7 linked regions of the Homo sapiens genome follow. The protein of the gene in region 1 purifies or fractionates together with the protein of each later gene. This does not show direct contact. Each region holds a gene or a part of one and is shown in the gene's direction. Other genes may lie near its edges.

Region 1 (4,330 bases):
CAACTCACAGTTGCACAAATATAGGGAGAAGATCTGACTTAGCAACTGCATGCACGGAGAGGATTGAGGGGCTTTGCTCGACACGGAGTGGTGCGTCAGCAGTGTGAGACGTGGCTGCCAACAGGCAATCACCACCTCAAGCATGACACCTAGGTCAAGAGAGGTGAGGGCACACTCCAGTGGAGGGTGACATGTGGTTTGGATATCACACTTTAAAAGATTAACAGGAGTGGGTTCAGGGAAGAGTGACTGAGATGGTAAGGGATTCAAAAGCACATCATAGAAGAACCAGTGGAAGTTGAGGCTATTTAGCATGGAGAAGATAAAGCTAAGCAGAACACAGAACAGCCATCAAAAGGGTGAAGAGTTGTCACGTAGGAAGGTTTGAACTCTTTCTGCTGTTCAAATGGAGAACAAATGGAGAGCCAGATTTTAATTTAAAGCAAGAAGAATCTTTGGCCTATCAAAGGGAAAAGAGTTGTGCCTAAAAGTATCCAACTAGGTTAGATGCACCATTGCAGGAATATGGAGGGATAACTCAAACATCATCTAGGTAATACTACTAGGAGATACTGGGTTCTGAGTCACGGTTAGAGTAAATGAAGGGAGAAAAAATCTCTACTTGAAAACTGTCAGTGAGGCCCACAGGGAAAAGCCTTGTTTTTCCAGGAGGACTAAAAATATGGCTCAACTATCAGCTATGGCAGCCTTTCCCTGACTTCAGACTTTATTCTCCTATTGCCATCACAAGTTTTGCAATAGCCATGTTAACACCAATACTGTCAATTTACTTAATATTTGTATTTACATTGATTCATTTTCTTTTCTTATTTGTTTTTAAAGTTACCTTATATTCTTGCTGTATCAGCATTAGCTGAGAAATTTGTAAGATATTTAAAAGCTCAAACCCAACTCCAGACCTAGTGAATATTCACAGTAGGATTCATATGCCCATTTAAGTTTGACAAACACTGATTTATATCATAGAATACATGGATGTAGCACGCTTCCTAAGTGTTAAACAAATATTACCCTATTTCCATCAATTCTGATTTTTTTATATTTTTTACAAATTTATCCCTGAAATGAGGATGCATATTACAATCTATGAAAGAAGCATTGCAGTTTAAATTAGCTGCATTTTTTTATTTGTGGAAGTTATAATTGATGGCAAATTTTGATAAAATAAGGTAATAGGCTTTAAAATAAGCATACAAATATTAAATTAAGAAATATTTGCCTAAAATTATTTTGTGTACAAGCAATGAGACTGTGCCATGGTTTTGGCTTTAGAAAAACAGAGTAGTTTCATACAAGCAAAGTAATGCTTTAAATCAGTAGTTCCCAAACATCTCTCTGAGGACCTTATCAAAAAATCAGATTCCCTGGTCCCAGCCATAGAGATTATGTTGCAGAGGGTTTTGAAGTAAATCATCTTCCAACACTTTTGGGTATCATGCTTAACGCTAAGTCAAGCTACATATTATAAGGTCGTAAACCTGTAACCAGTCAGGATTCCCTTATGCAATAGGGCAGCCATTCTCAAAGTGTGGTCTGTGGGTTCTTGTAGAGTCCCAAGAACTTTTTAGGAGGCACTTGAGGCTAAAACTCTTTCACAATAATACCCAGCTGTTATTTGCCATTTTCACTGCATGAGTGATGCAAAAGCAAGGATGAATAAATGGCTGGTACCTTATTACAAATCAAGGCACCGCACCAAACTGTATTAGTAATTACTGTATTCTTCACTACCATACACTTGCACTAAAAAGTTTCATTAACAATTTTATGTGATGAAATGGGAAGTCCACCAAAGTTTGATGGTTGTCTCCTGGAAAAGCACATGTGCATTTGTGTGAGTTGCAAGCTGAACTGGCCATTTTATTCATAAAGCACCATTTTTATTTAAAAGACCAACTAGCAGACAAGCTATGGTTATTCAGACTTGGATATTTGGCAAACATGTTCTCCAAAAGGAACAATGTGGTTGTCGTCTCGAGGAAAAAACTGACAGCATTTGTTATAAATCACAACTTTGAGCCTTCAAGTATAAATGAGAATGCATACAGGAAAACATGTATTTGCCACCATTAGCTTGACAACTTCCTAGTACTGAAAGAATTTTCAAATGATATCACACTGGTGATATTGATGATTGTAATTTTTTTAATATTGTGTAAGAAAATGTGTCCACATTTGGAAGTACTATATAATTCAGTGAACCAGTATTTTCCAAACAACCACTGTATGAAATTCACATATGGGAAAAGAAGATCCACTCAAAATGCAAGACAGACTAGTGGATTATAATGTAACAGAGTACAAAATGTTTATTGATATGGCTTCAGATTCCGCATTGCAACTAGCCTTTAAGAAACTACCACTTGTCAAGTTTTGGTAGAGTATCTGAGAAGAAAATTCACAATTATTTGAAAAGGTGACTAAAATACTCTTTCCTTTTCTGAATTACATAGCTAAATATTTTATATTTACTTTCACCAAACATACAGCAATGGCATGAATACAGAAGCAGATATGAGAATCCAACAGTCTTCCATTAAGGAGACATTAAAGAGATTTGCAAAAAATGAAAACACTACCCTTCTCACTAGTCTTTTTGTTTTGGAAAATATGGTAATTTTTATTAAAATATTTATGTTGGCCAGGCACGGTGGCTCATGCCTTTAATCCCAGCACTTTGGGAAGCTGAGGCGGGAGGATCACTTGAGGTCAGGAGTTCAAGACCAGCCTGGCCAACATGGTGAAAACCCGTCTGTACTAAAAATACAAAAATTAGCTGGGCATGGTGGTGGGCACCTATAATCCCAGCTACTCAGGAGGCTGAGGCAGGAGAATCACTTGAACCCGGGAGGTGGAGGTTGCAGTGAGCTGAGATTGCGCCACTATACTCTAGCCTGGATGACACATTGAGACTCCATCTCAATAAAATAATAAAATAAAATGTTTATGTTAATGTAATGAATTTGACAGTAATTTTTAGTTAATGAATAAATATTTTTTAATTTCTCAATTTTAATTTTCAATATGGTAAATATCAATAGATATGACTTACATAAACCAAATCTTATGGGGCTTTCAGTCATTTAGTTTTAAGAGTGCGAAGGCGTCCTGAAACCACAAAGTTTGAGAACCGCTGCTGTAGCGAAATCCACCTAAGCCATTACATTAGGGACTATCTTCAAAGAAATGAGAGAAGAAAGCCATGTGGATGAATTCTTTCTCATCCTCCAGGTGGTAACTGAGAGACTCTAAACCAGCATGATGGCTGCAGGCCAAGAGTCTTATTTGTGGGTGCTGCATTTGAATTCCAGTCCCTTACTATGAAAACCTAACCATGAACCCACAGATGGTTCAGCAGAGCCACTGAACAAAGTATAACTAAAATGCAACTTATCTGAATAAGGCCCCATGGGAAGTGGATGCTTTTCTTTCTGTAAGACAGAACCCCACAGAATCACAGGAAAGGATATTTCAACAATGGCCAGTTACCAATAAAGAGAGCAATTTCATAAAGGCTAAGATGGGGGAGAGAACTATAACATGTTCAACTTTCCCACTATAAAAAGAGGACATAAAAGACCTTATTCAAAAAATATGACGTATTTCAGGCGGGGCATGGAGGCTTACACCTGTAATCCCAGCACTTTGGGAGGCCAAGGTGGGCGGATCACCTGAGGTCAGGAGTTCAAGACCAGCCTGACTAACATGGCAAAACCCCATCTCTACTAAGAATACAAAAATTAGCCGGGTGTGGTGGTGGGCGCCTGTAATCCCAACTACTCAAGAGACTGAGGCAGGAGAATTGCTCGAACCCGGGAGGTGGAGGTTGCAGTGAACCGAGATTGTGCCATTACACTCCAGCCTGGGAGACAGAGCAAGACTCCATCTCAAAAAAAAAAAAAAAAACAGATTTATTTCTTAAGAGAGATATGGAGAGATATGTGTGGGTGTGCGTGTGTGTGTGTATGACTTGACTCCATTTTATGTCAGTTATAGAATTAAGTGGGAAGGAAAAGAGGAGAGAAGGGAAGGAAAGAGGAAAGAGACTTGAGGAAAATAGGTAGTGGAGTAGAGGGAAGAGGTGCCGAGGGGGAATGAGAGAAGCAAATTCTGAGAAGAGGAACAGTCCACACAGGACTTACGGGAACCTTAGACAGGAGTGAGGCTGGCTTCTCCCTTATAAGTGGGAAGAGGCTGTGGACCAGAGAGCTTAAGTGGTTTGATCAGTGCTAGGACTTTAAGATGAATTTTCTGCATTCTAAGCAGGGACAATACATTACATAAAAGAAGGAAAAAATACATAAAGAGA
Region 2 (4,330 bases), on another chromosome or scaffold:
TTTTTTTTACACCAAGACATGTATTCTCAAGACAGAGTAAATCCTCCCAGCTCTGAACACCTATTCTTACCCCATTTGCTTTGGGTAGCCACTATCTCTTATTTCCTGAGTTTGTATTTGCTTTTGAAGTTCTTTCGTGATTTTTTCTCCCCAAAAATAATTAGCAAAATATTCTGTTAAAATTTTTGATTTAACGTTTCTGAATTTAAAACTATGCTGTCCTTAATGCTTCTTTTCTTCTCTCTCCTTATGAATGTTTCCTCTTTGGCAATTGCTTTTAAAGTGAACCTATCCCCGCTTCGTGTTCTGGGGGCACCCACCCTGTAATGGCGAGACTTCCTAGCCCCACTGTAGCTAGGAGCGCTGTGCAGCCTGCCAGGTACTGGACAGATACAGATGCATGCGGCACCCGGTGCAAAGGTGCCGAACAGCAGATGCATCCTAAAGTCTTGAATGTCTGTCGTTTGTTTGACAAACAAGTCAATGCCGTGAGTTGTTCCAGAATGCGTGGCATTTTGTTTTGTCATAGCACAAGGTGCTGATAACCACATGCTGGCGTGCGTGGGAAAACATTTTGTCTCTCTGCATATGTTATGTGTTAGAACTAGGATCACACTAACTCACGTATCCAGTTGCTTTGTTTGTTTTTCATAATAATGGTCATCCCTCAAAAATTTTGTTCTTCATCTAAATACTGTTATAGCACTTAATAAAGATTAATAGAAAAATGGGACATTGGCCAGGCGCGGTGGCTCATGCCTGTAATCCCAGCACTTTGAGAGGCCAAGGCAGGTGGATCACGAGGTCAGGAGATTGAGACCGTCCTGGCCAACATGGTGAAACCCTGTCTCTACTAAAAATACAAAAATTAGCTGGGCATGGTGGCATGTGCCAGTAATCCTAGCTACTTGGGAGACTGAGGCAGGAGAATCGCTTGAACCTGGGAGGCAGAGGTTGCAGTGAGTCAAGATCGTGCCACTGCACTCCCGCCTGGTGACAGAGCAAGACTCTGTCTCAAAAAAAAAAAAAAAAAAGAAAGAGAAAAAAAGAAAGAAAAAAAAAGAAAAATGAGACATTAACCTGAATGTTGAAATGCTGATAAGACCCAGTCTTTTTCAAACACCTGTAGACACAAATACAGACTGAAAACAATCCTCCCTCTTTCTAATTTATAGAGTCAATGCCATTATATTTTGGGACTGGGAAAATAACAATTTGTAGTGTCTAAACGTAGATGTTTTACTGTCGTGTTTCAGATTGTGGTGCTTTAAAATTATGTCCTCACATCAGGTCATATCCCTTCATTTTACTGTTATATGAGCCAAACCGCAAAAGCTAAAAATAATGGCAGTGCCGGGATAAAGCTGGTACACCCACAGCAGGGCCCTCCCGGAGAAGTGGGTTTCCCTGCCCTCCTGGTTACTGCACGAGGTCCACGGAGGACTCTGAGGCTCAGGTGGCTTTTTTGTCACTGGCCTCATTATACACCTGGAATATGGAAGCTGGCTACTCTTTGGCCTGGGATAGCCTGTGCATTGGGGATTCACTAGAATCAAGGCAGAATATCTCCTTTACTAGATCTGACAATTGGATCGGTCAGGGACAGAAGATATAGTGCATTACAAACCCCTAGAGATTCATATTGACCGTGAAGACTTCAGGCTTTCCTTCTCTTCTAGCTGGAAGTTGGAGGGAGCTATTTATTTATTTACTGATTTATGTATTCATTCATTTATTTTTGAGACAGAGTCTTGCTCTGTCGCCCAGGCTTCATCACTGCACACTGCAGCCTCTACCTCACAGGCTCAAGCGATCCTCCCACCTCAGCCTCCTGAGTAGCTGGGATCACAGGTGCACACCACCAAGCCTGGCTAATTTTTATATTTTTTGTAGAGATGGGGTTTCACGATGTTGCCCAGGCTAGTCTCCAACTCCTAAATTCAAGTGATCCTCTTGCCTTGGCCTTCCATAGATATGAGCCACCAGACCTGGCCAGTTGGAGGGATTTATAATCACCTGAAATTTTCTTTACTCCTCTGGTTACTGGAAATTGCAGATTTAAGTACCTTTTAGAAAACTGGTAGGAACCTATGAGAGTAAATGCTAAGCTGAAGCAGTGACTCTTTAAAAATTAAGCCATTTGTCTTTAGCAAGTAAAAATCAAGACCTTCTGTTATGTTGTTGACAGAGGACTATATCGTTTCCTAATTATTTAAAATGAAAGACCACCTTCTGAACCATATCTTTAGATAAGGTCTAAATACACCGTAGGTAATACTTTGTGACTCCCTTTCATTCTACTTATTACGATACTAACAATGCCGCCTCTCTGTCTAAGATAAGGTATAGCCAAGCTGACTTCAATGTCTTAAACAGGAAATTCGTTTTGTAGAAATAATTCGGAGCTCAAAGTCTGCTCTTTGTAGAAGTGATGATGCTAAGTGTCCTGTGCCGACTCTGCTTGTTGAGTAGCTGAACAGCTGCCTGCCTCTGTCCTAGACGTGCTTAGGGAAAAAGAAGCCCTTTGCAAAATGATGTGACACTTGGCAGAAAGTTAACGTAGAAACTTAGCGGTGTGCTTTTGTTTGTTGGTATATGTGTTGCTGACATTTTATTTTTTTCAGATTGCAGGCCTCTGCTCACCAAAAGGCCTTAGCCAAGGACCAGACAAATGAGGGCAAAGAGCTTGCTGAGCAAGGAGAACCTGATTCCTCCACTCTAAGCTTGGCCGAAAAGTTGGCCTTGTTTAACAAATTGTCCCAGCCAGTCTCAAAAGCGATTTCTACCCGGAACAGAATAGACACGAGACAGAGGAGAATGAACGCTCGCTATCAAACTCAGCCAGTCACACTGGGAGAGGTGGAGCAGGTGGGTGTGCTATAGTCCGATTGCAGTTTGTGTGTGTGTGTTCTTAAATTATAGCACTGCAGTATTCCTCTGAGGTCAATGATGTAATTAAGGTGCTCTACCAGGAAACTGCTACCTGTAGGTGATTTGGTAATAGCTTTCTTCCTAAAAATGAGAATTCTACCAAGTATGTTGCTCTTTTTTTGTTTTCATACCTTGCTTGCTGAAATATCTAGAATGAGTCCATTTTGGAGAGAAAAAAATAGTATGCCCAACTGTGTTTCACCCAGAGGATTTTGTTTAATGAGACGTATTATATAACTATGTCCAGGAATGGTTTTCCACTAAGAGAAACAGTGAAACTGCATCAAATCGAGTATTTCAGCTTCTGTCAATTCATAAACCAGGATTTATATAGATGATATTTTTCAAGCAGCTTTTTAATTTTTAACTGTGTCCTTCCAGGTGCAGAGTGGAAAGCTCATTCCTTTCTCACCTGCCGTGAACACATCAGTGTCTACCGTAGCATCCACGGTTGCTCCAATGTATGCCGGAGATCTTCGCACAAAGCCACCTCTTGACCACAATGCAAGTGCCACTGACTATAAGTTTTCTTCTTCAATAGAAAATTCGGACTCTCCAGTTAGAAGCATTCTGAAATCGCAAGCTTGGCAGCCTTTGGTAGAGGGTAGCGAGAACAAGGGAATGTTGAGAGAATATGGAGAGACAGAAAGCAAGAGAGCTTTGACAGGTCGAGACAGTGGGATGGAGAAGTATGGGTCCTTTGAGGAAGCAGAAGCATCCTACCCCATCCTGAACCGAGCCAGGGAAGGAGACAGCCATAAGGAATCTAAATATGCTGTTCCCAGAAGAGGAAGCCTGGAACGGGCGAACCCTCCCATCACCCACCTCGGGGATGAACCGAAGGAATTTTCCATGGCTAAAATGAATGCACAAGGAAACTTGGACTTGAGGGACAGGCTGCCCTTTGAAGAGAAGGTGGAGGTGGAGAATGTTATGAAAAGGAAGTTTTCACTAAGAGGTAAGTGACCAGTGCCCCTAAAGCTTTAGAAAGCCACTGGGTTTTAGTTTCTGCTTGATTTGTCCTGTGTCTATGATGGCTTTTAACAAAGTTCTATAGGCAGTTTACAGCTAGTATTGGTTAAAAGTTCAGCGGGAATCCTATTCTTCCCTGGATCTGACTAGAGGATACATCAAGTTTTCAGCAATAAAACTACTGGAAGAGCTTTCACACATCTTCATGGAGTTTCTGTTGACTTTGGTCACTCACACAATGGCCTTCTGAGCTGCTTAGTTCTGGTGGCCCCTTTTAGAAATTGATGACCCCAAAGGTCCAGGCTGGGTAAGCACAAGGAATTCAGGAAAGACTTGACCCCAGTCTCTGAATCGCTAGAGTGCTTCTTCCTGCATGCCTGTTTTGCAGGCTAGCAAGCTACACTGCGTGGGCCCTTCATCCTCTTTC
Region 3 (4,330 bases), on another chromosome or scaffold:
ACAAGATGAATGTTCATAGGATTAGGCATGACAGTTGATGAGGAGTTAGTTACATTAAAAAAAAAAAAAAAAAAAAAAACCTGGCCGGGCGCAGCAGCTCACATCTGTAATCCCAGCACTTTGGGAGGCTGAGGCGGGCAGATCATGAGGTCAGGAGATCGAGACCATCCTAGCTAACACAGTGAAACCCCGTCTCTATTAAAAATAAAAAATAAAAAAAAATTAGCCGGGCATGGTGGCAGGCACTTGTAGTCCCAGCTGCTTGGGAGGCTGAGGCAGGAGAATGGCGTGAACCCAGGAGGCAGAGCTTGCAGTGACCTGAGATCACGCCACTGCACTCCAGCCTGGGCGACAGAGCTAGGCTCAATCTCAAAACAAAAACAAAAACAAAAACAAAAACCTTTTGGCCATTCGAGGTGTAGATAACTTTAAAACCAAGTTATTATAGAATAAGAAATTGGGTTTACTCTCTTTTAAAGTCTTAATAAAATGCTTAATGAAGTCGTTTCATTGTTCTCTTATTAAAAGGGTCCATTGTGATACCTGTTTCTCCTGGTATACTGACCATTTAAACATGGACAGAAGTTATTTCCTCTCTGTCTATAATAACTCCTCCTCCTGTTTTCTCTATCACAACACACAGTTTTTTTGTTTTTAATTTTTAGCGCATGAGGGCAGGGCCTATGTTTGTCTTGTTCATGGTTAATCTCCTTACCTAGTGCCTGACACATGTAAATGTGCAATAAAATTTATCAAACAAGTAGTTTCTTTTCTTTTTTTTTTTTTTTTTTGTTCCAGAAGACAGGGTCTCACTCTGTCACCCAGGGTGGAATGCAGTGGTGTGATCGTGGCTCACTGCAACCTCCACCTCCTGGGCTCAAGCGATTTTTCCACCTCAGCCTCCTACAGGCGCGTACCTTTACTGGCCAATTTCTGTATTTTTTTTGTAGAGATGGGTTTTCACTATGTTGCCCAGGCTGGCCTCGAACTCCTGGACTCAAATGATCTGCCTGCCTTGGCCTCCCAAAGTGCTGGGATTACAGGTGTGAGCCACCACGCTTGGTTGTAAACAGGTGGTTTTTTATAAAATCTTTCCTAGGTTAGATTTTTGGGCGTTTGTTAGCCAGAGTATCAACAGATTCACAATATGTATGGATTTAGTCCAGCCTTTTTTTTTTGATGAGATTTACCATATCGCTTCAATTTACCATATATTTTGGTGTTACTAAGCAGATTACTTCTTTTGAAATTTGAGTTATGCTGCCTCTTTTTAGTAAAGAATGTCATTGTTTTTAATACTCTTTTTCTTTCTTTCCTTTCTTTCATCTTACCTGTCCAACATGACAAAGCTAAATTATGATGAAGTTGATCAAGCTGAAAATATTATTCCTCTAATATTTAGCACATGGGATTTTTGTCAGTGGGGGTGGAAGGCAGACCGTAGTTGAAAATTGCATATATGAAGCCAACATGTATTGACCTCCTGCTCACACAGAAGGTCAGCCAGCTCCAAAAATATTTTGTCCTAATGCGTAATAAAATGTTCCCCCTTTTCTTACATTATAGTAAATCAACAGACTGCAAAACTTATACCTTCTATTTGGGCTATCTATGAAAGATACATAGGGATCCCCAAATTGGTGAATATCATATCTGACAAATACAGTCTAATCATGGCATATGTGAATAAGTAGATGATGGACTGTAGTTGGCCAGTGGCTAGACAGTAGTCATTTATTAACTAGGCAACCATTTTGTGCACATCAACTCCTTATCACAGAACCTTTGGCATTACTAAAAGTGTACTGTCAAAACCATGAGTGATAAATCTGTGAACATAAAAGGGTATATTTTATAAATGATACTCTGCCCTTTATTTCCTGAGTTAACTATTTCCTACCTCTAAAATTTCCTCCTATCCTGATTTTTCTCATCAAATAGAAAAGGGATCACAAACCTTAAGATACCTGGAGATAGAAGGGCTTTATTTTTAATAGGGCATGGAGTTGAGTGACTTACGATGTTGTAAAAAGATCATCATAAACTGTGTTCCTCCTACCTTCAGTGAAAGCTCTTTAGCTCCTAGAGAGCAGCAGAGAACTTTATTTGAATAATTGAACTATATACATTTATGTTTTGTGCTTCTTTTCTCTCAGAATTGAACCAGATGAAATAATCATAGAATTGAGGTACAAAATCATAATCTTTAAGTGAAAATCAACCTTCACATTAAAATAAGAATAAAAATGGAATAGTTGTGTAGTATACATTTAGGTAAGCCTAGGATAAAAAGAGAAAGATATGCAACTACTCAAGAACAGAAAAAAAGAACCACTATAGAAAATTTGTTGATGGTTAGAAAATAACAACAAACAACACTAGGTACAGAGATTACATGATCATTTATTAGACCACTAGTCTCACATTTTTACTTCTACTGTAGTGTAGTACCTTTCTATTTCAGACTAATGCCAGTAATCTTTGTAAAATTCAAGTCTGAATTTCTTCAGTGACTTATCATCACTTAAGGATAAAATCAGACTGCTTAGCTTTTAATCATGGGATCCCTTCTTATCTGTCCAGCTTGGTTTTTTTTCACTCTGCCACTCTGCTCTCCATCTCAAACTTTATCTTATAGTAGTAACAGTATTCACCAGATATATTGCATTTCCTCAAGCTTTTTTTTAAAGTGTGGTCCCCAGAGACATCAGCATAACTTGGAAACTAGTTAGAAATACAGTTTCTTGGGCTCTACTTCAAGGCCTACTGAATCAGAAATCCTGCGGGGTAGGGCTAAGCAAGCTAAACAAGCCTTCTTGGTGATTCTGATGTACCTTATATTTGAAAACCACCACCTTAACCCTTTTCTTTTTTAACCTCAGCCATTAACTACCATACTTTCAATATCACTTTTATTTGTGCAACTCTTAATCTACATCTCAAACTCTATGTCAGTCCTATTTTTTAAGTTGTATATTGGACATCTGTCCTGGATATCCTTTCAGTAGTTCAGACTGTCTAGGCCCTGAGCAAAATTCATTATCCATCTCCTGATATCTGCTTTACATACTGTTTCCTATTTTCTCTCAGCCATGCAGCTTTAATTCTTAGATTGTACAATATTTTCTCATTATTTTTTATGTTGTCTTGCCATAGAGGAACAGGAGAAAAAAAGATTTTTTAAAAACTGTACTAACCAAAAAAGGGTGAGGATTTTTCAGGCAATAAAGTTACCATTGTTTGTAGAGCATCTGTTAAAATGTATTTTTATCTTACTTCTTCCCTCCTTCCCTCTGCCTCTTTCCTTGCTATATCCTTCTTTCTCTCTTAAGAACTTAGAGACTGTATTTTGAACCTTAACCTCAGTTGTGCAAGTTCTGTGGCAAAGCTGGACAGGTGAAAGCTTGTACCAGCATCAGATGTTGAAGCCAGGCAACATTTCAGATATCCCTGAACAGTTCTTACAGTAGGTCCTCAATAAATATTTTCTAAATGAGTAAGTTAGCAAGTAGATGAGTCTCAAAAGACTGGGCAGATCTCCAGGGTCAAAAGAGCATGGTGAGATTGTGGCTGGAGATGTAAGAAACTTAAAGGATTTAAGCAATAAGGAGTGAGAAATTTTGATAATAAATGTTTATTAAATGAATAAATGAAAAGCTTTAAAGAACAGATAGCCATTGTCACAAATGGTCAGGTATTTCCTTCTCTGAAGGAGGGATAAATTATTATTTCAGTGAAAACTTTGAAGTTTGATTTTTAGAACTCATGTTTATATGGGTACATCCCATTTTTTTTGATATACATTTAAAATAATTTCTTATGTTGATTTACGTAACAGTATTCTAATGTTTGAGCATATATCTTAGACTATAAATTTTAATTGTTATAGTTTGTTCCATTTTTGTTGAACGGGAAAAACTGATACATATCTTTAAAATTGTATATTTAAATTACCTTACATATGAGGAATTTTTATACTTGAAAGTTATTGTTATTAACTTGTTTTCATAATGTGAGATATTCTGTCATAAAGCACTTATGTTTTAAGTTGTAATTTAAAATACCTTTCTTTTTAACATGCACACAGGAAACCTCGACCTGTCTCCCAGTTGGTTGCACAGCAGGTTACTCAGCAGTTTGTGCCTCCTACACAGTCAAAGAAAGAGAAAAAAGATAAAGTAGAAAAAGAAAAAAGTGAAAAGGAAACAACTAGCAAAAAGAATAGCCATAAGAAAACCAGGTAAATGTGAAGAGTGTTTTATGACATTTTTGAAATAATAAAACCATTTAATTTTTTTAACCTTGACATACTAATATACACAAAGTGGAA
Region 4 (4,330 bases), on another chromosome or scaffold:
AAACAAACAAAAAGCACTACTCACCTAATAACTCAAACCAAGTTACCTTTCAATCCAACATCTTCCTTAATTCCTATTCCCATATGATTTTTTACCAAACTTGGATAGAGGTTATCTCCTAATAGCACTGAACACTTCCTAACTCCCTCCACCCCTTTTGCTACCACCCTGGCTCAAAGCAACAGTGATTGCCTCCTTGTTGCTCTTCATGTCCTGTTCTGGTTTTGCTCCAAATGCCCACAGAGCAGTCTCTAAAAAAACAAAATTCTGCTCACAGATCTGGTTTAAACACCCCAAATGGTTTACACTCCACTTGGAATAAAATCCAATTCTTTAATAAGAACTTTCATGATTGGGCACTTGTGTATGTTTTCATTCATTCTCTCTCTCCCTCTCACTCTCTCTCCTGCTTTTTGATTCCTTAAATATGCCATGCTTATTTCCACTTACAGATCTTCAAAGTGTTGTTTTCTTCTATCTCTCGGCTAAAGCCTTGTCCTGTTTAGTGCTCAATCTTCAGTGCCTAAGAAGAGTGAGTGGCAAATAGTAGATACTTACTTAGTAAATACTGGTTAAATGAATGGGTTGATTAATGAATGAATGAAGGAAGGAGATGATATATCCATCTATCTCATAGCAGGGATTAAAATGGTTAAATACTCCATGTTTATGAGAATGTAGGTTTAGGATTATTGTTAAGAATTATTTTTAAGGTTTCTTATAGAGACAATTAGGGTATAGCTATCAAAAATTAGACTAGGAAGTAGACTGAAAATTAATGTGACGAATGACCAATTTGTGACACACCCAGTTACCCAAAATCAACTCAGTTCACCTAAATTCAATACAGCAATCTCAATTATTGAGGATATTTTCCTGAAAGTTTTATTTTTTTGGATCTCTGCCAGATCCAGTTGCCTAAATTTTTGGAATGTCAGTTTTATGTGTGGTTCACATTTTAATTGCTATTTCTCTACACTTGATCTTGTATTTGGGAATGGCAGATTCTTCCTTTATTATAGTTAACTGTGTTGTGGTTGTGGGGAGATATGCATCCTGCTTTCACGCCCACATTCGCCTCTACACCTGCTTCCACCAATGGCCACTGAACAGTTTTGGCCAATGTCCTAGATCTGGTTTAGGAAAATGGACCGACGATTTCCCACAGATGAATATTTAGTGATTTGCTCAAGGTCACCACAGCATGTCGGTAGCTGGAAAAGAATAGAGATCTCATAACTCAGGTTCTTTAATTTTTAAGACTCAAACTTATTAAAAACATATTAATTGCACAATGTCATTTAAGATAGAAAGGAGGCAAGGGATATACCTAATAAAAGTAATATGACAGCTCTCACTATGTAAATTCTTGTCTGCTTCAAAATTGTCCTAAATTAGGTATAAAACTGGCTTTTTAAATAGCAAATGTATTAGAAAATCAGAATATTTGAATTTTAGAGTTAGACATTAACAGTTCGGGAAAAATACAAATGGCTGCTGAATGCAGTTATTTATTACTAGCTCTGCTATGAAACCCTAAAGGATACCTTTCTGTCACTCCTATTTTGCTGCTATTTGTATCCGCTTTGAAAAAATATTTCCATTCAGATTTTGAGTTCTCGGTGGGTATCTTTCGCCTTTACCTTTTGCTTGTCACTTGGAATTAAAAGGAATGTGTATTAGAAAGTAAATAGAAATGCAAATGGTAAGTTGAGTAGGAGAAAACAGTTGAAGGTTGTTTATTTTTGTTTTCTTAAGAAATGAAACAGCTGGTTATTTATTTCTAACATGCTAATCAAATAAATAGAACTCATTCTTCCTTCACATCCCCTGACTGGGGTTAATAACCAATGGGCTTTAGGGATTCTATTAGCTGTGCTATAAATGATTCAGTTAGCCAAGTTATACAAAACTGGCACATTCCCCCACACCAGAAAATGCACGTTTCCTTCCTGTTGTGTTTTGGGGTCCCTCTGCAAAATCACCAAGATCCAAGCCAAACTCAGACTAAACAGAGAACCTTTTGAAAAAAAGGCAGTTGTGGTAAATTAAATTGCACAGCTATGAGATCAAATGATTTTATCATCATTCTCAAAAGAACCCACTCAGCGCAGCCATGAATGAATCTTTCTTGCTGGAAAATACATCCATCTTCATTGTAAAAATCAGTCAAGGTGAAACGTAGGAGGCATTTTCTTCTCTGGGACATTCACCACTTGTGTTTCCTCATCTCAGGCTTTGATAAAATAGAGTCCAGAGCCAAAGGTGGCATGAAGACCCTAACACTTCAGGACTCTCAAGCAAGAAGAATGGGAGCAATAGAAAGGGGAGTGAAGAGAAATAGGAAATAAGATGCTCATTCCTTTAGTTTACATCCTTCTGCCTGTTTTACCAGTCTCTGGTAAAGAATATACAATGTACTTAGTATTAGAATATACTATGTCTAGGCGATAGACTAATTTATAACTGGATAGAATAGGTTTCTGACCAATAGGTTTAAAAAAAAAGAGTTTTTATTTCTCTTTTAGGACAATTTGGCTTGAAAATGTTAAGAAAGAAAAAGAGCACTTTTGCTTCACTTCTCAGCCTGAATTTTCCATGCCCATGGTGGTTTCTTTTTCCAAACTGTTCCTTAACATTTACTAGCATCTGAACTTCCATTCCCGATTCCAGGGCACTTCGAGCCATCCAAGATATCCAAAGAGAGACCCCAAAGTTGTTAAATATGAAAACTGACATTCAGCTGGGTGTAGGTGGGGTAAAGTGGACTGTGGGGTATAAAAAGTGTACATGGGAAGGGAAAAGTGAGGTGTAGAGAACAGACTGTGAGCTGGAGGATTCGGAATCTACTGTCGTTCTAGTGATCGCTGACCAGGAGACCTTGGCAAGTCACCTACTTTCTTTGTAAAAAGGTTTTGCAGTCCGGAAGTGAGGATTATAATAATTTGGTCTTCCAGTGTGGTGAGGTGAGGAATGACCTGTGTAACTGTGGCTGTGACGTTGACGTTTGGGCACTCAGCAACCTGGAGGAACACACGTATTGGCTCTTGTCTTCCAGATCACTACATGCAGGTGCTTGTTTGTCAGCATGAATGTGTGAGGGAACTTGCCACCCGCCCTGGCCGCCTCTCTCCCATCGAGAATTTTCTTCCTCTGCACTATGATTACCTACAGTTTGCCTACTATCGAGGTAAAGCGTGGATCATCCGTGAAGACTTCTTGGGGGGTTGTGGTTCATCATTACAGACATCACATTTTTGTAATTGAGTTTTCTGACTTCTTCAGTTTATTATGAAAGCAATAGGAATTTATGCATTTCTTCTCTCCTGAGCTGCAGGACAAGAAGAGCAGAAGGGGATATCACCAATGGGCAAAGTACAAAATTTAATGCTGTGATAATTTACTGAAAATTATACTAGATTGACATTTTGCATGGTTTTTTAGACTTAATTTTTTTAGAACTGAATTTAAAAGGAACTTTGCAAAATCCTCTTCCTTTCCAAAAACAAAACATTATTTATTATCCTGGCGTTGATGGCACACAGTGAATCACGTGCTCAAGTCATAAACAGTGAATCAAAGATGAGAGAGTTGCTTAATTTTTATCATTCCTTTTAAAAATCAGAGTCATCTCAGAGTATATATATATGTGTGTGTGTGTGTGTATGTATTTATTATACACACATACATGCACACACACACATATATATACACACATACGTATATTGTAAATTTCCATTAGAAGAAATACAATGTTGTGAACTATTTGAAAACAAGGCATACAGACATTTAAAATTTCCCTTGTAATAGCTAAATATTTCTATAATGAAAAGTTTATATTGGAAACATCCTTGTTAGTTCCTTTTAGTAGTTTGCTACTGTAGGATGTGCTATAATTGTATAGTGAAGGATTTAAGGGGCTTCCTCCAGAACATCTGGGACTCTATGAAGGACTTTGCATTGAAGTACCAGTTTACCACAAACTGCAGCAATGAAAAATAACATTTTAAAAGCACTTATGTTACTCATACATTATATATAAAATGGTACATTACTGTTGCAAAGATCACCTTCAGGATGTTTACTTAACCCAAACTCGGTACAAAAATCAGAATTAACTCATAGAATTCTGCTGTTTATATGTGTTAAATAATAAAAGTTGTCAACAAACATCTTCAGATAGAAACTTGACGATTTGCACAAAACAACTAGTACCAAAGCAGACCAAAGGTAATAACTTTTGAATACTTGAAATCATGTCTTTCCTTTTATCTGTGACTGTTTCTGCTTTCTCTGCTGAGCCTCAATTTATCTTCCCTCTTATTCATGT
Region 5 (4,330 bases), about 65 Mb from region 1:
TACGCCTTCCTGCCCTTGGCCTGAGAAGGGCTTCTCCAGCACCTCGGGGACCCCAGCCCCCAGACCCTGGGGTGGCCACTGCCCCAGAAGCCGGGCTGAGACAGGATTCAATGGGGAGGGCCCGTGGGCAGGGCAGAGGCTTGGGCCCCTGGGAGACCTGGCCCTAGAGAAAGAGGCGCGGTGCTCACCTTTGCCCCGGCCTTGCAGGCCTGGATGGCTCTGCCGCCAGCCTCTTTTCTTGTCCAGGCTTCAGGCTGAGCATCTCTTAGAGGGCCTCAGGGATGTCCAGTCCTGCCCTGAAGGCCGCTGAGGACTTAGGATGGTTTAATACTGAACCCACAGCCGCTGGGGACGCCTTGAGGGGAGCCACAGTGTGTGTGCATGTCTCACTCTGGGCTAACTTGTGAAAGGGTGAACAGCTCAGGGGCCCAGAAAACTTAACTCTGGGGCAGGCAGAGGTACAGGGGAGGGCAGATGATTCAGACCCCACCCTGATGGGCCGGGCAGTCACTGCAGAACCCAACCCGGTGCAGTAAGCCACTGCGGGCAGCTGTGGCCCAGCCCCAGGCCCCAGATATTGGGAGGGGCCCCTCTCCTCCCGGCTGTGCCACCCTCACCAAAGGGTAAGTGGGCCAGGACAGAAGGAGCAGGAGGCAGAGCTGCGGCCCCCTCTCAGGGAGGCACCCTCATTGGATGACCCTGTCATGGCCAAGCCTGACCCAGGCTCACTGGGAGCTAAAAGGCAAAGAAGAATAAACCCACATCTGCCCTCAGGGAGCCCAGTGCTGAGAGGCCTGGCACTGGGACAAACTCGCAAACCAGAGTCCTTGAGGGCTGGAGGGGGCCTCCCGGGGCAGGGCATAGGCCACTGCAGGGATGGCACGGAACAGGGCAGCGGAAAAGGCAGGAGTCCGAGGCCCAGGGCCCTGCCTCTGGCGGCTGGGCGCCCTTGGTCACATTGTTGGTGCTCAGAGCCTCAGTTCCCACAGCTGTGCAGCGAGAGGAAGCTGACGGCACCGACCATGGCTGTGGAGGCCTCATGTGTCAATTGTTGCTGTTCTGCAGGAGGAAGAGGATGGCAGGGCCACGCCCCAGCCCATGGGCCAGGCTGCTCCTGGCAGCCTTGATCAGCGTCAGCCTCTCTGGGACCTTGGGTGAGTCCACGTTGCCCTGCAGCCCCCTCCTGGCAGGATCATCCCTTGGGCAGGCATTGCCCTTGCACGGGGATCTCACGGTGTCTCACCTAAACACGCTTGGCCATTCAGCAACTGACCACTGCCCACCTTCAGGGCTGGAAAACTTGAGGCTCCAAGCTCTTCAGCCTAGAGAAGCTTGAGCCCTGACCACGGGGCCTGAGAATAGGAGCGAAGGAGGCTGTGTCTAGAGGAAAGAGGAGACACCCACCCAGGACTGAGGCACCCAGAGGATGCACTGAGGCCCCAGAGGTGTAGTCAAGAGGGTTATAGGAATTTGGAGAAGAGAGGCACTGCTGACGTGTCACTTGCTCTCTGAGTGTCACTAGTGGACAAATCACTGGAGCCAGCTCCTACCACTTGAATTTTGTCTGTTAGAGGGGGTCCTGCTGGTGGCTTGAAATAGACCACGACAGAAATGTTTACACCACAGAAATTGGCAAACGCTACACGTCAAGCACCAGAGACCAGAGCCGTTGTTATTTTTTTATTTAATTCAATGTATATGTAGAAACATGCTCTCACTCTGTCGTCCCGGTGAAATGCAGTGATGCCATCGTGGCTCACTGCAGCCTCAACTTCCCAGGCTCAAGCAATCCTCCCACCTTAGCCTCCCATGTAGCTAGGACCACAGGCATGCACCACCATGCCTGGCTAATTAAAAACAATTTTTTTGTAGAGACAGTCTCACTATGTTACCCAGGCTGGTCTCAAACTCCTGAGCTTAAGCAATCTTCCTACCTCGGCTTCCCAAAGTGCTGGGATTACAGGTGTGAGCCATCGCACTGGCCACCACAGCCATTGTTAAACACTGACCAGCACACCATTGCCTGAAGCCCAGGAGACCTCTTACTGTGTACACCAGGTGCACACAGTAGGTCCTCACTGTGATTTTTAACTGAGCAGAGCCAAAGGGAAATCTAGAGTTTTACTTCATTCGTTACTGAGGACCCACTGTGTGCCAGGTGTGCCGGGTGCTAGGGCTACCGTGATAAACAAGACACCATTCCCTTCACCCTAGAAGGGGCTCAGAGGACAGACAGGCCATGTGGCAGTGGTCTCGCCGTGAGGCACAAGCTGTGATGGAGGAGGTACCTGAAAAGGGTGCTAGGTGCAGCTCATCAAAGGTAATGGGGAAGGCTGAGGACCGTCTGGCTGGACCTGAGGAGGCAGCAGGCCAGGGGGTGGCCAGGGTGTGCCAGCACCGAGTGTGCCAGTGCCACTGTCTCAGTCCCCACCTTCTGTCCTTCTGGCTTGAGTGGGAAGTCCCAGGTTTGAAATCACAGCTTGTTTCTAGCTGTGCTACCTGGGGCAGATCACATACCCCTGGCCTCTGTAAAATAGGGAACGGCTGGGTGCAGTGGCTCACGCCTATAATTCCCAGCACTTTGGGAGGCCAAGGTGGGAGGATCTCCTGAACCCAGGAATATGAGACCATCCTGAGCAACATAGGGAGCCCCTGTCTCTACATAAAATAAAAAATTAGCTGGGCTACTTGGGAGGCTGAGGTGGGAGGATTGCCTGAGCCCAGGATGTCGAGACTGCAGTGAGCTGTGATCATGCCACTGCACTCCAGCCTGGGCGACACAGCAAGACCGTATCTCAAAACTAAATAAAATTGAAATGCAGGTTGGGCACAGTAGCTCACGCCTGTAATCCCAGCACTTTGGGAGGCTGAGGCGGGCAGATGATTTGAGGTCAGGAGTTCGAGACCAGCCTAGCCAACATGGTGGAACCCCATCTCTACTAAAAATACAAAAATTAGCCAGGCATGGTGGTGCCCACCCATTATCCCAGCTACTCGGGAGGCTGAGGCAGGAGAATCACTTGAACCTGGGAGGCGGAGGTTGAAGTGAGCTGAGATCGCACCACTGCACTCCAGCCTGGGCAACAGAGCAAGACTCGTCTGAAAAATAAAGTAAAACAAAATAAAAATACAACAACAACAACAAACCAAAATAAATACATAAGGCCGGGCCCGGTGGCTCCCACCTGTAATCCCAGCACTTTGGAAGGCCAAGGCGGGTGGATCACAAGGTCAGGAGATCGAGACCATCCTGGCTAACACGGTGAAACCCTGTCTCTACTAAAAATACAAAAAATTAGCCGGGCGTGGTGGCGGGCGCCTGTAGTCTCAGCTACTCCAGAGGCTGAGGTGGGAGAATGGCGTGAACACGGGTGGTGGAGCTTGCAGTGAGCCAGGATCACGCCACTGCACTCCAGCCTGGGCAACAGAGCGAGACTCTGTCTCAAAATAAATAAATAAATAACATAAGGAGGGAATCCCCATCTCTCCAGGTGAAGGTGCAGGTGGGAAAGTGCTTGCCTTTGCTGAGCGCCTCCCCATTCATGTGCCCACATCTGTCCCCCCAGCAAACCGCTGCAAGAAGGCCCCAGTGAAGAGCTGCACGGAGTGTGTCCGTGTGGATAAGGACTGCGCCTACTGCACAGACGAGGTGAGGACCTGGCCCGGGTTGGTGTGGAACAGGCAAGGGTCGGGAATAGCTGGTGGAAATGAATCTAGGGTTGGGGCAGCCAGGGAATGGGTGCTGCCCCCAGTGACCCCCTGTCCTTCTGGCCAGATGTTCAGGGACCGGCGCTGCAACACCCAGGCGGAGCTGCTGGCCGCGGGCTGCCAGCGGGAGAGCATCGTGGTCATGGAGAGCAGCTTCCAAATCACAGAGGTGCCTGGTGTGGGGACTGGGGTGGGGGCTCCCCATGCTCAGCCTGGCTATTTATGGGGGTGTATAGTGCCCCTTGGCCGGGCTGGGCCCCCATCGGGCCTCCGGAGTGACCCTCTAGCCAGCTGTCCCCTTCCACTGGCTGCAGGAGACCCAGATTGACACCACCCTGCGGCGCAGCCAGATGTCCCCCCAAGGCCTGCGGGTCCGTCTGCGGCCCGGTGAGGAGCGGCATTTTGAGCTGGAGGTGTTTGAGCCACTGGAGAGCCCCGTGGACCTGTACATCCTCATGGACTTCTCCAACTCCATGTCCGATGATCTGGACAACCTCAAGAAGATGGGGCAGAACCTGGGTACGGCAGGGCCAGAGTGGAGGACAGCAGGGCAGGAGGGGGACAGGTGGGCGTCTGCTTGGGAGGCCAGGACTCAGGACAGCTGCACCCACCCAGAAGGAAA
Region 6 (4,330 bases), on another chromosome or scaffold:
TTTGGGAGTGATTTTGTTGGGTTGTTATCGAGCCATTTCTCTTTATTCTTCCTGGGTGTTCTTTTGAGACTTCCCTTTAAGTTAGGTTGGATTAGGTTATTATAGTTGTAAAAACAGTAGCTCAAATGAAGACATAATTACAATAATTACAATAATTACATATAATTACAAATACTGACTGGGCTTCTGCTGTGTGCCCAGCTCTGTGCCAGGCCGAAGGAAACCCAGTGCCTGGCAGACTTGGCTTGCCTGGCTCACTAACATGAAACAGTGAGGGCAGAGCGCCTTCCTTTTGTACCTGTGCTGCTGCCTTACCCGTGTTCTTGTTCTGACATGGTGGAGAGCTGTCATCTAGGAGAAGGAAGCCGGCAGAGGTGGCACAGTGTGTTTTACTCCGCCTGTGACATTGTTTGGCACTGTGGTGTGGACTCGTGGGCCTTGGATGGTTCCATCTGCACCTTTTACTGGCTGTATGATCTTAATCAGGTTCCTTAGTCTTTGAGGCTCAGGATCTTCCATTATAAAATAGAGATTATAATGCCTCATTCCCATGGCCCTTTGCTTTAACACCCCCCCGCCCCCCTTCAAGAAGTAAGTGTTCCAGGCTACACAAGAAAGTGCAGCCTGTGGAGTATAAGCAGGCATTTTGTAAACTTTTATTATTGTCATTTTCCTGAATTTTGCCTATATGTAGATGAATGATAGAAGAACCAAACTCGTCTTTTCCTTAAAGAGACTTTGTATCAATAAGTAGAGAGACCAGAATGGGAATTCTGTTACAATGATTTTTTTCTACCTAAGATATTATTGTTTGGAAACTGTTCAGCAGTGCTTGAAATTGCTGAGAGCTGTACTGATGCTCTGACAATTTCCTGGGAACCCATCCTCTTGCCTTTGGGATTCTTCTTATCCTCCTTTCAAGGCTCAAATGTCCTCCTTGTGGTGGGCATTTGTTAGGAACTGCTCAGGACTCTTTGTAGCAGGCGTTCATCTTTTGTCAGCCTTTGGCCTTGTGGGCAGTCATTGATGAGCTGAAGAGAGCAGTCCCAGCTACTGTGGATGGCAGAGAAACTGCATCTTCATTCTACTGAGGGTGTCCATGTTGGTTTAGAAATAACATTCTCATTGGGATAAAACAGGTATCTTTTTACCTACTGTCTTAAAAACTTAGATCTAAATAGTTTGATACCATTTGGAACAGGTGTCAGCCTGCAAGCTATAAGAAACCAAAAGAGAAGAACATGCAGTCTCTTCTTTTGGTGTCTTTCTTCATCATTTCTTTCTTTCTTTTTTATTTATTTGTTTTTGAGGCAGGGTCTCCACACTCCGTCACCCAGGTGGGAGTGCAGTGGCATGATCATGGCTCATCACAGCCTCGACCTCCTGGGCTGAAGCAATCCTCCTGCCTCAGTTTTTAATTTTTTTTGTAGAAACAAGGTCTCACTATGTTGCCTAGGCTCTTCTTGAACTCCTGGGCTTGAGCAATCCTCCTGCCTGGGCCTCCCAAAGTGCTGGTATTACAGGCGTGAGCCACCACGCCTGGCCTATCATTTCTAATGTCTAAGTGATTGCTCCCTCATCTGAAGTCAGGTAGCACTTAATATACTTCCTGCTCTTCGGGTATTACCTTTTATTTATTACTGACACATACTAGGCCTCATTATCAGAAAAAGATTTTAGCAAACTTTTGGTAGTCTTTACGTACCCAGTGTTGTTAATAAGCGTTTCATGGGTGTGTGCCTTAACTTCCCTAGACCCTTGGAAGATGGCATGGCTGTTAGCCCTCTTGTATTACTCTCCTTGCCTGGGGAAAGCTTTGTTTGCCTGCAGGGGTTGCTCAGTGGGTGATTGCTGATTAGATGGAGCCGTGGCTGACTACTGTCTTGCCTCTTCTATTTAATGAGATCTGTATGTTTTGGAGGCCTTCTCCAGAAACAGAATGGTCTATGATTGCTTTTCATAGCAGAAATCTCATCTCCTTTGAAAGGTCTAATGTCTTTTTAAAAATTTTTGCTTATTAATGCCTGTGTGATTACAAGCAATTTGCTAGTGATTTGAAGAGTTTGGAGGGCAATTGAAGGTGTCACATGCCACCATATGGTGAAGGAAGACGCTCTGCAAGCAGTTCTGACACATTTTTTTGTTTTTAAATTAAGCTCCAGAATTGTAATTGCTTGTAAAATCCTTTTGATAGTTAAATTCCAGGTGGTAGAAAATCTTTCCGTAAAGATACTGTAAATAATTACACAGACCATCTGGCTAGATGGTTTTCTTCCCCCATCCATTTGGGGGGAAAAAAAGGAAGAAAGAAACTGCTTGCTGCAGTTGGAGGTTTTATTTCTTGTGATAATCAGCTTCAGTACTAGAGTAAACACTCAGTTTTTAAATCACAACTAACAATTGAAATCAGCATTGCTTGAGAGGAAAAAAAATTGCTAACAAAAGCAAAGCCACATACCTGCCAAATCTGACCTTGAATTGGTCTGCCAGCTAGTACTTATTGGACCTTACTGTGTATTCGGTACCCTGCTAAAGGCTCTAGGAGGTTCTCTGCCCATAATTTAAAAAGTAAAATATCTGTTGCGTCATAATACAAATGAGATGTTTTTCATGAACATCTGTCCGTATTTTCCATTGTAGGAAGTCAGAATATTTCACTTTGCCTTGCTATCTGCCTGGCTTAGCTGTCTGACCACTGTCTAGTTTGAGCAAAGATGAGGAGAGAGGTATGGTGTTTGGCTTCCTCCTAATTAAGAAGAGTCCAACTCTGAAAAATACTGTGCATTTCTTACATTAAGAGTTTGCTAATACATTGGGTAGAATTATACCAATTAGAGGAAATAAGAGAAAGAATAAAAAGTCAGACTTGAAGACTGTGAGGAAATGAGCAAGTTGAGAATCTCAGGCACAAGGCAAAGTTATTAAGATACTGATAAAATGTCTGGAATTGTCTCAACTAGGTTAAAGTAAGTTCGTAGATGCTGCAGCAAAATTCCGTGTGGGTGATTTATCTGTGAGATCAAAGGCATAAATGATCAAAATTATTGTTAACAGTTTCTAAAACTAATATTTAATAAGGGGCACAATGAGCTTATTGTGTGTCAGCTTTAAAAAGCATATTCCTATCAGTGGTAGTGGTCTCTGAGGTTGGGGGCTCTTCTTGGTAGTGAGGCCTATCTTCCCCCTTCACTGTTCACCTACTCCCTGACTTAGGGGCTTGTACATGTGTACAAGTCCTTCTTCACATCTTTTTGCTTTCATTTCAGGGTGGATTACGTGGACTCTTTGGGGCGTTCCCGGCGCTGTATGAGAAAGGATTTGCCAGATCTGCTGGAGATGGATAAAAATCTTCAGGGGAGACTGTAAGTGTGTGTGGTATACAGAGCTCTGCCAAGGTCTGAAATGCAGCCACAGGGATTGTTTTGTGAGGGGAGGCTGTTTTATAATTAATGATCTCTGTTGCTCCAGTAAGGAGATATTGATTGATTGATTGATTGATTGAAGCACTTTTTAGTGGTTAGCATGCACATACACACATAATCCACACTTGGGGAACAACCTGACTGGTGGATGAGTAGAGCTGTCTCTTTTACTTGGAAGGATGTCTGACAACAGAGTAACAGAATAAACCCAAACGAAACCAGCAAACCAGGCTTTGTGGAGACAAGTGGTTTGAGAATATACACTTGATTATCCCACAAACAAGTGGCTCTAGGGAGAGAACTTACTCACTTTTTCTTTATGTATCATTGCATTTTTGAAGTAAGGGCCTTATAACTAGATTTTTCAGCAGGGCCTAAGACCTAAGACATAACTCTAAAACGTAAGACCTAAGAGATAACTCTGAAACATCCAGGGGAATAAATTCCTCTTACCATAGGAACTTTTATGTGAAAAGTGTTGGGAGAAACTCCACCTTGTCCAAGTCCTGCAGGTTCAGGCATCCAGCACATAGCCTTTGGCTTGGCATAAGAAAGGGAGAATGGAGGCTGGGCGCGGTGGCTCACGCCTGTAATCCCAGCACTTTGGGAGGCCGAGGCGGGCGGATCACAAGGTTAGGAGTTCGAGATCATCCTGGCTAGCACAGTAAAACCCCGTCTCTACTGAAAATACAAAAAAAAAAAAAATTAGCCAGGTGTGGTTGCGGCCGCCTGTAGTCCCAGCTACTCAGGAGGCTGAGGCAGGAGAATGGCGTGAACCCAGGAGGCAGAGCCTGCAGTGAGCCAAGATGACGCCACTGCACTCCAGTCTGGGCTACAGAGCGAGACTCCGTCTCAAAAAAAAAAAAAAAAAAAAAAAGAAAGAAAGGGAGAATGGAAACCTTTGAGCC
Region 7 (4,330 bases), on another chromosome or scaffold:
TCTCTTGCCTCAGCGTCTCAAGTACCTGGGACTACAGGCCTGCACCACCACGCCTGGCTAATTTTTTAATTTTTAGTAGAGATGGGGTTTCACTGTGTTGGCCAGGCTGGTCTCAAACTCCTGACCTCAAGTGATCCTCCTGCCTCGGCCTCCCAAAGTGCTGGGATTACAGGCGTGAGCCACCGCGCCTGGCCCCCTGAAGTGTAAACTATCCGCATCTGTGACAAAGCATTCAGTTTCTCCCCTCTTCCTTCAGAAAATAATCTCTAACATACAGCTAATTATGGACTTTCCTGGCACAGAAGGAATGATGCTATAACCTAACTAGGTGGACTGTCTGTGGATACTACTGGTAATTATGACACTAGTGATTTTGTAAGTGGACTGTTTATATGGTACTTACTAAATTCAAATATGGGCACGTAATGAAAGTGGGCATTAGCTGCACATACATTAAATGGAATTTAGTAATTTAAAAATATCGATTCATTTTTCTTGAAAAATTAAAAAGGGAGAAAATTCATCTATAATCTAAGTTTTTTTGTTAAATTTAACTGTGGAAAATTTTTGGAAACTGGTTTCCTTAATATGCTGTTCAGCCAAAAGTTTTGGAAGGTCTCCATCAAGAAAACAAAATTATTCATCAAAAAATGAAAACTGTGTGGAAGAAACTTTTGAAGATTTGCTTTTAAAGTATAAACAAATACAGTTGGAACTAGAATGCATCAATAAGGATGAAAAACTAGCATTGAGTAGCAAAGAAGAGAATGTGCAGGAAGATCCTAAAACATTGAACTTCGAGGACCAAACTAGCACTGATAATGTCAGTATTACAAAGGATTCAAGTAAAGAAGTAGCTCCTGAGGAGAAAACACAAGTCAAAACTTTTCAGGCATTTGAATTAAAACCACTCAGGCAAAAATTGACTTTACCAGGAGATAAGAACCGTTTGAAAAAAGTTAAAGATGGAGCAAAACCACTTTCCCTGAAATCCGACACTACTGATTCTAGTCAAGGTAATGGAATTAAATATTTCAGTTAGTAATGACTCTTCTTCCTCTAAAGTAGTAACTACTTGTTTTGGCAGTGTACTTCATTGAAATGATTGTAATTATCTGTAAATTCTTTTGTACTTTCTATGTAGACATTCATATCATTGAATAATTACTAATTTTGTTTACTTTTAGTCTTTATTTATTTATTTATTTTTTGCCTGACATTCTGGCCTCTATAATAGAATGTTATACATAAGTGATAATAGTGGACACCTTTGTTTCCTAATTTAAAGAAAATGGTTTTGACATTTACCATTAAATATGATGTTAATTTTTTTGTAGGTATCCCTTATCGGGTAAAGGAGGGTTTTACTCCTATTCCTGGTTTGAAATTTTCAGCGTGAATGGATGTTGAAGTTTACAAAATCTGTTTTCTTCATTATTGGGATGAGCATCTAATTTATTTTAATTTGTTAGTGTAATGAATTATATAATTTATTTCTAGTATTAAACCACCCTTGTATGCTTGCGTTTAATACAGTTTATGATATACCATTTTTAAATCATGGATTTGGCTTGTTTTTTCTTTTCCTCTTTATTAAGATATAATTTATATACAGTAAAATTTATCTTTTAACATTATAAATGAATAAGTGTGTAGTTCTTCAGGTTTTGACAAATGTAGACAGTGGGTAACCATCACCAGCTACCATTAAGATACAGAATTCTTTCATCAACCTCAAACAGTTTCTCCAAGTGTCTTTGTAGTTATCCCGTCCCTCAGCCCTTAGTTCACCTGGTAACCACTGATCTGTCCCTATAGTTTTGCCTTTTCCAGAATGTCACACTAATGGAATCATACAGTATATTGCCTTTCATTATAGCTTCTTTCATTGAGCATAATGTGTTTGAAATTCATTCATGTAATTGTATATGTCAGTAGTTCTGTGTATCCCATCATACTGTAGTTCATCCATTTCCCAATTATGTTTGGGTTTTTCCAACTTTCGGCTATTACAAATGAAGGTTTGCTAGTGTTTTGTTTAGAATTTTTTATGTGTTCAGAGCCTGTAATTTCCCCCCCCTCTTTTTCCTTGACAGTTTTTAGTGTAAGGTTATAATACTCAAATTAGTTGGGGCTGTTTTCATCTTTATTCTCTGTAATAGTTTAAGATTGGAAACATTCTGAGATACTTGGTAGATCTTGCTGATAAAAGTGTCTGGGCCTGGGTGGAGTTTTTTTCTGAGAAAGTTTTAATCTAACTTCGTGTTTTCTATTTCTGTTAAGACAGTTTATGTAAACTCTATATTTTTTGTAATGTGTCTATTTCCTGTAAGTTACAGAAGTTATAAAAATTGTTCTTAAGAATCCTTTACTTTTTTATCTGTAGTATTTATAAGTTGTACCTTTTTTTTCCCTGCTCTCTTCTTTAATTTACCCTGAAATAAGTACATAAGTTTTTAAACTCAGTTTTCAGCCTCTCTCCTATTAAGATCATTTTAGGCCATAAAGTTTGACTTTAGTTCTGTCTCAAGTTGGGTTATTTAACTTTTTTCATTCATTCTGAATATTTTCTAATTTTTATTTTTCATTGACTTGTAGGCTGCTTGGAAGTATGTTTCTTCTAAACATGTAGGTTGTCTAGCAGTATTTTTTATTGATATCTAAGTCAATCATACTGTCAGAAAATAAGATTGCTATGATAACCAATCTTTTGAAATACTTGGAGACTTCCTTTATTGTCCAGTATGTAATCAGTTTTTTGTAAGAGTTCTGTGTATGTTTGAAATGAATTTATAGATTACTTGAGCTTTTTGTGTTGTTCACTTTTTTTATTTTTTGATATGCTTGATCAGTTACTAAGAGGAGTTTGTTAAAATTTGCCAGTATGATGATGGATTTGTGATTTTTACTTTTTGCTTTAAATACTTTGAAGGTGGGTAATTGAGTCATTATGTAGTGACTTTATCTCTGATGTTTTTGCCTAAAAGACTATTTTGTCTTATATTAATAGCCACATCATCTTTCTCTTTATATAATTTCCCACTCTTTCAGTCTTTCTGTATCCTCATGTCTCGGATATTACTTGTACATAGTATAGAGCTGGTTTTAATTTATAATTCAGTATGACAATCTTTGTCCTTTAGCTTGAACGTATAGTCTACTCACATTTTTTATGATTATTGACATTTGGTTTTATTTCTTCTTCTTTTTTTTCTTTTTAGGCTCTTATTTTTCTTCACACAATTTTTTTTCATTTGCTAGTTTGGAAGTTGGATACTAAATTTCTGGTCTTATATTCCTACCAGTGTTTAAAGTTAATCAGGAACCTTACTCTTTCCCCGAAATACAAAGAATGATATTTGCTTAGCTTTGCCTATATATTTAGCACTTTCTTGGCTCACTCTTTGTATCATGTCTGGAATTATATATGTATAAATATATTCTCTGTGTGTGTGTGTTTTAGATAAGATCTCACTGTGTTGCCCAGGCTAGAGTGCAGGAGTATGATCATGACTCAGTGCAGCCTTGACCTCCTGGGCTCAGGTGATCCTCCCACCTCAGCCTTCTGAGTTGCTGGGACCACAGGCATGTACTACCATGCCCGGCTATGTTTTAAAAATTTCTGTAGAGACGGGGTCTCAGTATGTTGTCTAGGCTGGTCTCAAACTCCTGGGCTCAAATGATCCTCTTGCCTTAGCCTCCTAAAATGCTGGGATTACAGGTGTGAGCCACCATGCTCTGTGCTTAAATACATTCTTTAGACTTTTTTTTTAAAAATGTGTTTTTGCTGGGTGGAAAACGATTTCCGTTTACTCTTTTTAAAAGATATTTTCCCTGGGTTTAGAATTCTAGGTTGTTTAATTATATGCTTTTTGTTTGTTTGTTTTTGAGACAAAGTCTTTCCCTGTCATCCAGGCTGGAGTGCAGTGGCACTATCTTGGCTCATTGCAACCTCCGCCTCCTGGGTTCAAGTGATTCTCATGCCTCAGCTTCCTGAGTAGCTGGGACTATGGTACATGCCATTGCGCCCGGCTAATTTTTGTATTTAGTGGAGCTGGGGTTTCGCCATGTTGGCCAGTCTGGTCTCAAACTCCTGGCCTGAAGTGATCCGCCTGCCTTGGCCTCCCAAAGTGCTGGGATTACAGGCATGAGCCACCACACCCAGCCCCTAATTATATTCTTACTGACAATATTTTCTGGCTTCCATTGTTGATTTTCAAAACTCATCTATCAGTCTTAATGGTTTCCAATTTGAAGATAATCTTTTTTCTTTGGTTGTTTTAAAGATCCTTTTTGTCTTTGATATTCTGTAGTTGAACTGTGTGATGTG

The links.
Region 2: the proteins of MYH13 (region 1) and SVIL purify together in Homo sapiens (affinity purification with mass spectrometry; one large-scale study listed by BioGRID and IntAct). This does not show direct contact.
Region 3: the proteins of MYH13 (region 1) and YAF2 purify together in Homo sapiens (affinity purification with mass spectrometry; one large-scale study listed by BioGRID and IntAct). This does not show direct contact.
Region 4: the proteins of MYH13 (region 1) and P3H2 purify together in Homo sapiens (affinity purification with mass spectrometry; one large-scale study listed by BioGRID and IntAct). This does not show direct contact.
Region 5: the proteins of MYH13 (region 1) and ITGB4 purify together in Homo sapiens (affinity purification with mass spectrometry; one large-scale study listed by BioGRID and IntAct). This does not show direct contact.
Region 6: the proteins of MYH13 (region 1) and CCDC174 purify together in Homo sapiens (affinity purification with mass spectrometry; one large-scale study listed by BioGRID and IntAct). This does not show direct contact.
Region 7: the proteins of MYH13 (region 1) and ZFC3H1 purify together in Homo sapiens (affinity purification with mass spectrometry; one large-scale study listed by BioGRID and IntAct). This does not show direct contact.

The regions. Positions count from the first base shown.
Region 1 is NC_000017.11:10,365,979-10,370,308, reverse strand, and holds part of MYH13 (myosin-13), read left to right. Parts: intron 1-4,330. UniProt on the Homo sapiens protein: Fast twitching myosin mediating the high-velocity and low-tension contractions of specific striated muscles.
Region 2 is NC_000010.11:29,523,010-29,527,339, reverse strand, and holds part of SVIL (supervillin), read left to right. Parts: intron 1-283; coding exon 284-379; intron 380-2,624; coding exon 2,625-2,868; intron 2,869-3,312; coding exon 3,313-3,889; intron 3,890-4,330.
Region 3 is NC_000012.12:42,161,523-42,165,852, reverse strand, and holds part of YAF2 (YY1-associated factor 2), read left to right. Parts: intron 1-4,087; coding exon 4,088-4,240; intron 4,241-4,330. UniProt on the Homo sapiens protein: Binds to MYC and inhibits MYC-mediated transactivation. Also binds to MYCN and enhances MYCN-dependent transcriptional activation. Increases calpain 2-mediated proteolysis of YY1 in vitro.
Region 4 is NC_000003.12:189,987,767-189,992,096, reverse strand, and holds part of P3H2 (prolyl 3-hydroxylase 2 isoform a precursor), read left to right. Parts: intron 1-3,058; coding exon 3,059-3,190; intron 3,191-4,330. UniProt on the Homo sapiens protein: Prolyl 3-hydroxylase that catalyzes the post-translational formation of 3-hydroxyproline on collagens. Contributes to proline 3-hydroxylation of collagen COL4A1 and COL1A1 in tendons, the eye sclera and in the eye lens capsule.
Region 5 is NC_000017.11:75,723,629-75,727,958, forward strand, and holds part of ITGB4 (integrin beta-4 isoform 1 precursor), read left to right. Parts: intron 1-1,065; coding exon of another isoform or gene 1,066-1,075; coding exon 1,076-1,154; intron 1,155-3,566; coding exon 3,567-3,649; intron 3,650-3,775; coding exon 3,776-3,877; intron 3,878-4,022; coding exon 4,023-4,227; intron 4,228-4,330. UniProt on the Homo sapiens protein: Integrin alpha-6/beta-4 is a receptor for laminin. Plays a critical structural role in the hemidesmosome of epithelial cells. Is required for the regulation of keratinocyte polarity and motility.
Region 6 is NC_000003.12:14,661,762-14,666,091, forward strand, and holds part of CCDC174 (coiled-coil domain-containing protein 174), read left to right. Parts: intron 1-3,266; coding exon 3,267-3,362; intron 3,363-3,875; exon of another isoform or gene 3,876-4,301; intron 4,302-4,330. UniProt on the Homo sapiens protein: Probably involved in neuronal development.
Region 7 is NC_000012.12:71,653,571-71,657,900, reverse strand, and holds part of ZFC3H1 (zinc finger C3H1 domain-containing protein), read left to right. Parts: intron 1-599; coding exon 600-1,016; intron 1,017-4,330. UniProt on the Homo sapiens protein: Subunit of the trimeric poly(A) tail exosome targeting (PAXT) complex, a complex that directs a subset of long and polyadenylated poly(A) RNAs for exosomal degradation. The RNA exosome is fundamental for the degradation of RNA in eukaryotic nuclei.